Linked DNA regions of Homo sapiens. The protein of the gene in region 1 interacts with the protein of each later gene in a pairwise test. Each region holds a gene or a part of one and is shown on either strand. Other genes may lie near its edges.

Region 1 (3,705 bases):
CTGGGCTTAAGGGATCCTCCTGCCTCAGCCTCCTGAGTAGCTAGGATTATAGGTGTGCACCACCACACCAGGCCAATTATTTAAAAATCTTGTAGAGACAAGGTCTCACTATGTTGCTCAGGCTGGTCTTGAACTTTTGGCCTTGAGTAATCCTCCCACCTTGGCCTCCTAAAGTGCTGAGATTACAGGCATGACCCACTGCCCCCAGTCCCCATTTTCTTTAAAAGGCCTGAACATTTCCTTCCTCGTGTCAGTCCTGAACAATTCACATTTTCAGGGCTCTGCTCACAGGCCTGTGACTTAGCCTGCCTGCCTATGAAACCATTAGCAAATTGGAAATACCTCTTGCACCAGTCAGAAGGGGGATTGGTTTCTCTTATATGCACATACATTGGGTCTACTGCACAAATTACAGGGCTCCAAGTGTCTTATGAGAGCAGGACTTGGGCTGACCATGTCTCTCTGCCCTCACCCATGCTCTGCTCTGATTTCAGATCCTAAGTGTGAACGTGAAGTCCCCAGCCCTGCTGCTGAGCCAGTTGCTGCCCTACATGGAGAACAGGTATGGCAGGGCGGGGGTGGGGACCAGTCGGAGTTGGGGACCTGAGGTGGGCACAGAAATACAGTCGGTAGCACAGCCAGTAGTGGGTAGAGGACAGAAGAGGTCTGGGATCTCCACATCCCTCATCTTCTTGTCCTGCCTCCCCATCTGTGTGGCTGCCATTCCCAATTCCAGTGGCTGCAGGATGAGAGTAGTATTCCAGGGGCCCAGGCATAGCCTCCTTGGCCTTGACATCAGCAGGTTTGGGACAAGGCTATGCTTTAACTCCTTGACCTTGTGGGCTGGTCATTGTCACCTTACCTGCTCTCTGTTCTTACCAACTTAAAACCAATGACAGGGTTAGCCCCATTCCTCTCCATAGGAAAAAGCCTGTCCCAGACCTCTCCTCATGCCTGCGCTTGGTCTCCAGGGACCCTGCCTGTGTTCCAGGTCCTGCAGATCTGACTGTACCCCTCACAGACACACCCTTAGGAACTGGCCAGGGGCTGTCTTCAGTAGAAGGAAAGTTCCTGACTGTCACTTCTGGTCTCCCTTACCCCATCTGCTCCTTAGAGGTTGCTCATTGATAGGCACTCACCATCAGCCTTGGGTGCCTCTTCACAAAGCCCACCCTGCCCTCTCCTTCAAGCACCTGGCAAGAGAGGAAGCAGAAGATAAGGGTTCTGAGCATGGACATCGTATTTATGAGAAATAGGCATGGAATCCTAGCTCTGCCGTGTATTGGCTGGTACTAAACCTTTCTGAGCCTCAGTTTTCTGAACTCTGAGATGGGGACAGTAATAGGACCTGTGTTGCTTCTGTGAGGGTTGCATCATTTAATGAACTCATGATAGTGTCACCATCAGTGGTAAGCTCTTAGCTTCAGCTTCTCTTATGTTTGTCTTGTCTCAGGAGGGGTGCTGTCATCCTGGTCTCTTCCATTGCAGCTTATAATCCAGTAGTGGTAAGTGCTTGGTCCTTGTGCTCCTGAGTGGTATAGGGTGAGGGGCAACTTTGTTCTTTTCCTCAGAGCCTTACAGACAAAGTGCCTGGGACAGACCCCCACCATCCTCCTGCTGCCCTGGGCTGAGCTTGTCTCCATGTGGGTGGGAGGGCTGCTGGGCCTGTGAGATCCCTGTAGGTGAGAAATCCAACTGATGCTTTCCCCCACTCTCCCATATCCTAATCACTCTGTCAATTCCCTTCCCAGGCGCTGGGTGTCTACAATGTCAGCAAGACAGCGCTGCTGGGTCTCACTAGAACACTGGCATTGGAGCTGGCCCCCAAGGACATCCGGGTAAACTGCGTGGTTCCAGGAATTATCAAAACTGACTTCAGCAAAGTGGTGAGGATTGGGTGTGTCTTCCATCTCCCAGTCTGGCTCAGTGGGAACCCTTCCCAGTGAATAAGGGATCAAGGGGTGACTGAATCCTTAGGTCAGCATGCCTATGACTGAGGTCCTCATTGTTCTCTGAACTCAGCCATGGTGCAGTCCATCCATCCTGAAAAGATGCTCCTTCTTTTGAGAAGGGCAAAGCTGCCCTAGGTGTTCTGCCTGGTGGCCTTCCCGGGGCCCTGCCCATCTTGTTTTAGTAGCACTGACTCCTTCATTTCTTCCCTTTGCCCAGTTTCATGGGAATGAGTCTCTCTGGAAGAACTTCAAGGAACATCATCAGCTGCAGAGGCAAGTGGGGTTTGGAGATTTGGTGGTCCATGTGTGGCTAGGCAGGGGCAGTTGAGTCTATTGCAAGAGCAGACCCCTCCCTGTCATCTGGCCATTGTTTTTGCTGAAATCTGGAGTCCACATGGCCCTGGAGGGTGCAAGTAGCCCTGCTGCATCCACCTTGTTCCCCATGGAGCCCACTCCCACCTGTCATCCGTGAGCCCCAGAGCAGCAGAATCAGAGTACAAGATGCTTGACACTGTGTCCTTCTTCCATCCAGGATTGGGGAGTCAGAGGACTGTGCAGGAATCGTGTCCTTCCTGTGCTCTCCAGATGCCAGCTACGTCAACGGGGAGAACATTGCGGTGGCAGGCTACTCCACTCGGCTCTGAGAGGAGTGGGGGCGGCTGCGTAGCTGTGGTCCCAGGCCCAGGAGCCTGAGGGGGTGTCTAGGTGATCATTTGGATCTGGAGGCAGAGTCTGCCATTCTGCCAGACTAGCAATTTGGGGGCTTACTCATGCTAGGCTTGAGGAAGAAGAAAAACGCTTCGGCATTCTCCTTAGGACTTATCTGCTTGTAGATTTGGCTGATCCAATTAACATGTGGGGTTCTTGGTGTGGGTCTGGGGAGCTGAAGGATTTTATGGAGCTGGTGCTTTGGAGGAATCTTAAGGGAAAGGAGTAGAAGCTCAGGCCTTTGAAGGATTTCAGCTCCTCCTCTCTGTAATTTGTGCTTTAAGCATTTTTTTTCCTAAAATAAACTCAAATTTATCCTCAAGTCTGGAAGCATCTGTCAAGGGTAGAGCCCAGGGCAGCATGGTGGGAAGAGGCCTCTACCGCCAGCTGCCCTGAGCTCGTCGCAGACACACAGAGGCGGGAGTGAGTGTGCTGCCTTGCAGAAGGCTTTGTGTGTGCTCCATTATCTGAACTGGGCCTGCTGGGGGCTCAGCAAGGTGGTGGTGGGTGACAGTGGAAAGATTCTGGGGTTCTCCCAGGGGTCCTCCAGGCTAATACTTCTTAATGTTTTCTGGGCCACACAGGCCTTTGAGAACCCAGAGAAAACAGTTATACCGAATCTTGTGCATAATTCCAGTTAGAGGAGAGTAGTCAGAGCTGAAGTTCCTCTTGGGGTGAACACATGGCTTTCTCAGAAAAGGCCCTGTGTATTGTCCTGAGTCATATTCGGGGGCACCGCCCTCTGTGTATGCATACTGAGGCTCAGCACAGTGGAGGGGGAACAGTGGTCCTCGAGCCATCCGTGGCCCTGAGCACCACTCTTGCCACCCATAAATGTTGTCCTGAACCAGTCCAGAGGGAGGAACTGAGACAAGGCTTCCAAGCTGACCCCCGGCCTTGGTCTCATGGAAGCCCTTCAGCAACACCTCCTCTCCACACCAGCCGGGGACGGGTCCTTGTGGTGTGAATGGTTCAATTACAAAAGCATTTGTGCATCTTACTACAAGCTATGCATTGTGCCAGGCACCCTGGAGAACACAAACGT
Region 2 (3,817 bases), on another chromosome or scaffold:
AACTAAAAGGTAAGTGATAGGGCCAGACGCAGTGGCTCAAACCTGTAATCCCAGCACTTTGGGAGGCCAAGGCAGGCAGATCACCTGAGGTTAGGAGTTTGAGCCCAGCCTGACCAACATGGAGAAACCCCATCTCTACTAAAAATACAAAATTAGCCTGGCGTGGTGGCGCATGCCTGTAATCCAACTATGCAGGAGGCTGAGGCAGGAGAATCGTTTGAACCTGGGAGGCAGAGATTGCGGTAAGCCAAGACCGCGCCGTTATACTCCAGCCTGGGCCACAAGAGCAAAACTCTATCTGAAAAGAAAAAAAGGAAAATGATAGACTGGGAAAAGTTTTGCAACAAACTTAGTAAAGCATTAGTATTATTTATGTAAAGAGAATTCTTGCAAATTCATAATAAAAACCACTGAATGTCTAAATAAAAATGACATAAGCAGACAATTCATAAAAGAATATAAATAGTGGGCAAATCTTTGAAAACAATCCAACCTTATTGTCAATCAAGAAAAGCATACAAGCATATTAAAACAGTCTTCTTGGCCAGGCATGGCTCACACCCATGATCCCAGCACTTTGGGAGACAGCAGCACGTGGATAACTTGAGCCCAGGTGTTGGAGACCAGCCTGGACAACATGGCAAAACCCCTGGACAACATGGCAAAACCCTGTCTCTACTAAAAATAAAAATTAAATGATTAGCTGGGCATGGTGGTGTGTGCCTGTAGTTCCAGCTGCTCAGGAGGCTGAGGCAGGAGGATTACTTGAGCCCAGGAGATGGAGGATTGCTTAAGCCCAGGAGATAGAGGCTGCAGTGAGCTAGAATTGTGCCACTGCACTGCAACCTGGGTGACAGAGCCAGACCCTGTCTCAGAAACAAACAAAAATCCAAAAAACTGTTTTTCCCTATCTAATCAGCAAGGCTTTTTAACAGTAGTATTTTACTACTGTTAAATAGGCTGGATTGTGAGTAGTATTTACTACTGTAAATAGGCTGGATCCAGCTGTATAGGCTGGATTGTAAGTCAAGCCCTCTCATACACTACCAAAGAAAAGGCCAGTTGAGGCCAAAACTCTGCCATACATATGGGTCAAGAGAACCACTTCTAGGCATCCATCCAAAGGTAGTTATCAAAAATAAGGATTAAGGGTATTCACTGCAGTTTTGTTGATAAGAGCCAAAAACGAAATAAATTTCCAACAAAAGTCCAATTGCTGTAAAAAAAAGAATGAGTTTATGTCCTTTGCAGGGACATGGATGAAGCTGGAAGCCATCATTCTCAGCAAACTAACACAGGAACAGAAAACCAAACACCACATGTTCTCACTCATAAGTGGGAGTTGAACAATGAAAACACATGGACACAGGGAGGGGAACGTCACACACCGGGGCCTGTTGGGGGATGGGGGACAAGGAGAGGGAGAGCATTCGGACAAATACCTAATGAATGCAGGGCTTAAAACCTAGATGACGGGTTGATGGGTGCAGCAAACCACCATGGCACATGCATACCTATGTAACAAACCTGCACATTCTGCACATGTATCCCAGAACTTAAAATAAAATTTTAAAAAAGTCCAATGGCTGAACGTATCATGTGTGGTCTATCCCTACAATGTACTAACATGCATTATAGGGATATACCACACGTGATGATTTCATCACGTGATGAAATAATGATTTTTAAAATCATTATTTTGCTCACTATTTATGGAAATGGGAAACTGTTTAAGTGAGATGAACTATAAAACTGCAATATTGGGGGGGTGATTGCTTTTTTTTTCTTTTATACTTTTCTGCATTTTCTGGATTTTCTATCATGATTTTGCTTTTATGATAAGCAAAATGTTCATATCTGTTTTCTAGCGCCTGAGTAAATTTCACTTGCCAACCCCTGGGGACACATCTCGCTTCCGAGGTACCATATCTAAAAGTGGCTTGCAAGCACACCATCTGCGACTCCCTCTCACCGCTTCAGAGGATTTTAGGACCTGTCTACCTTTCCTGTATTCCTTTGTCTCCAAACATGAAATGGTGACCCTCATCCATGTTTGTTTGGTTTGGGCCTGTTTTCACCTCCTTCCAAAAAAAGGAAGAGAAGAAGAATGTGATTTTTCGTGTTTCTAAGCACTTTCACGCCGTCTGTGCATCCATAGATGTTCGATTTGGGTGCCTGTTGGGCTGGGTCATGGGAAAACTCATAAAGAAGTGCCAGTTTCTTTTGCGTTGTGAAGAGACACTGACCCTGTCTTTGTTCTTGTCCACAGATATGATGCTTCCTGGTGTGTTTAGTGGTTGGTGCCATTCCAATTTTCTGTGCTGAAATCATTCTGAAAACTCAAACAGTAGACTTCAGCACACAAGGAAAGCCAAAGCCATTTGAGGGGGAATAAAGCCAAAAGCCTTTCACCTTATTCGTTCCAAGAATCTCACCGCCCCCTCCTTATCCCCCTCCAAAAATAAGCCATTGCACACAGACAGGCAGCATGGCTAGCAAACGAAAATCTACAACTCCATGCATGGTTCGGACATCACAAGTAGTAGAACAAGATGTGCCCGAGGAAGTAGACAGGGCCAAAGAGAAAGGAATCGGCACACCACAGCCTGACGTGGCCAAGGACAGTTGGGCAGCAGAACTTGAAAACTCTTCCAAAGAAAACGAAGTGATAGAGGTGAAATCTATGGGGGAAAGCCAGTCCAAAAAACTCCAAGGTGGTTATGAGTGCAAATACTGCCCCTACTCCACGCAAAACCTGAACGAGTTCACGGAGCATGTCGACATGCAGCATCCCAACGTGATTCTCAACCCCCTCTACGTGTGTGCAGAATGTAACTTCACAACCAAAAAGTACGACTCCCTATCCGACCACAACTCCAAGTTCCATCCCGGGGAGGCCAACTTCAAGCTGAAGTTAATTAAACGCAATAATCAAACTGTCTTGGAACAGTCCATCGAAACCACCAACCATGTCGTGTCCATCACCACCAGTGGCCCTGGAACTGGTGACAGTGATTCTGGGATCTCGGTGAGTAAAACCCCCATCATGAAGCCTGGAAAACCAAAAGCGGATGCCAAGAAGGTGCCCAAGAAGCCCGAGGAGATCACCCCCGAGAACCACGTGGAAGGGACCGCCCGCCTGGTGACAGACACAGCTGAGATCCTCTCGAGACTCGGCGGGGTGGAGCTCCTCCAAGACACATTAGGACACGTCATGCCTTCTGTACAGCTGCCACCAAATATCAACCTTGTGCCCAAGGTCCCTGTCCCACTAAATACTACCAAATACAACTCTGCCCTGGATACAAATGCCACGATGATCAACTCTTTCAACAAGTTTCCTTACCCGACCCAGGCTGAGTTGTCCTGGCTGACAGCTGCCTCCAAACACCCAGAGGAGCACATCAGAATCTGGTTTGCCACCCAGCGCTTAAAGCATGGCATCAGCTGGTCCCCAGAAGAGGTGGAGGAGGCCCGGAAGAAGATGTTCAACGGCACCATCCAGTCAGTACCCCCGACCATCACTGTGCTGCCCGCCCAGTTGGCCCCCACAAAGGTGACGCAGCCCATCCTCCAGACGGCTCTACCGTGCCAGATCCTCGGCCAGACTAGCCTGGTGCTGACTCAGGTGACCAGCGGGTCAACAACCGTCTCTTGCTCCCCCATCACACTTGCCGTGGCAGGAGTCACCAACCATGGCCAGAAGAGACCCTTGGTGACTCCCCAAGCTGCCCCCGAACCCAAGCGTCCACACATCGCTCAGGTGCCAGAGCCCCCACCCAAGGTGGCCAACCCCCCGCTCACACCAGCCAGTGAC

The links.
Region 2: the proteins of DHRS2 (region 1) and ZHX2 interact in a two-hybrid assay, tested with the Homo sapiens proteins (one large-scale study listed by BioGRID and IntAct).

What each region holds. Positions count from the first base shown.
Region 1 is NC_000014.9:23,642,658-23,646,362, forward strand, and holds the end of DHRS2 (dehydrogenase/reductase SDR family member 2, mitochondrial), read left to right. Parts: intron 1-494; coding exon 495-562; intron 563-1,453; coding exon 1,454-1,505; intron 1,506-1,751; coding exon 1,752-1,886; coding exon of another isoform or gene 1,887-1,897; intron 1,898-2,169; coding exon 2,170-2,225; intron 2,226-2,484; coding exon 2,485-2,596; coding exon of another isoform or gene 2,597-2,645; 3' UTR 2,646-2,982; downstream 2,983-3,705. UniProt on the Homo sapiens protein: NADPH-dependent oxidoreductase which catalyzes the reduction of dicarbonyl compounds. Displays reductase activity in vitro with 3,4-hexanedione, 2,3-heptanedione and 1-phenyl-1,2-propanedione as substrates.
Region 2 is NC_000008.11:122,949,023-122,952,839, forward strand, and holds part of ZHX2 (zinc fingers and homeoboxes protein 2), read left to right. Parts: intron 1-1,868; exon of another isoform or gene 1,869-2,269; 5' UTR 2,270-2,488; coding exon 2,489-3,817. UniProt on the Homo sapiens protein: Acts as a transcriptional repressor. Represses the promoter activity of the CDC25C gene stimulated by NFYA.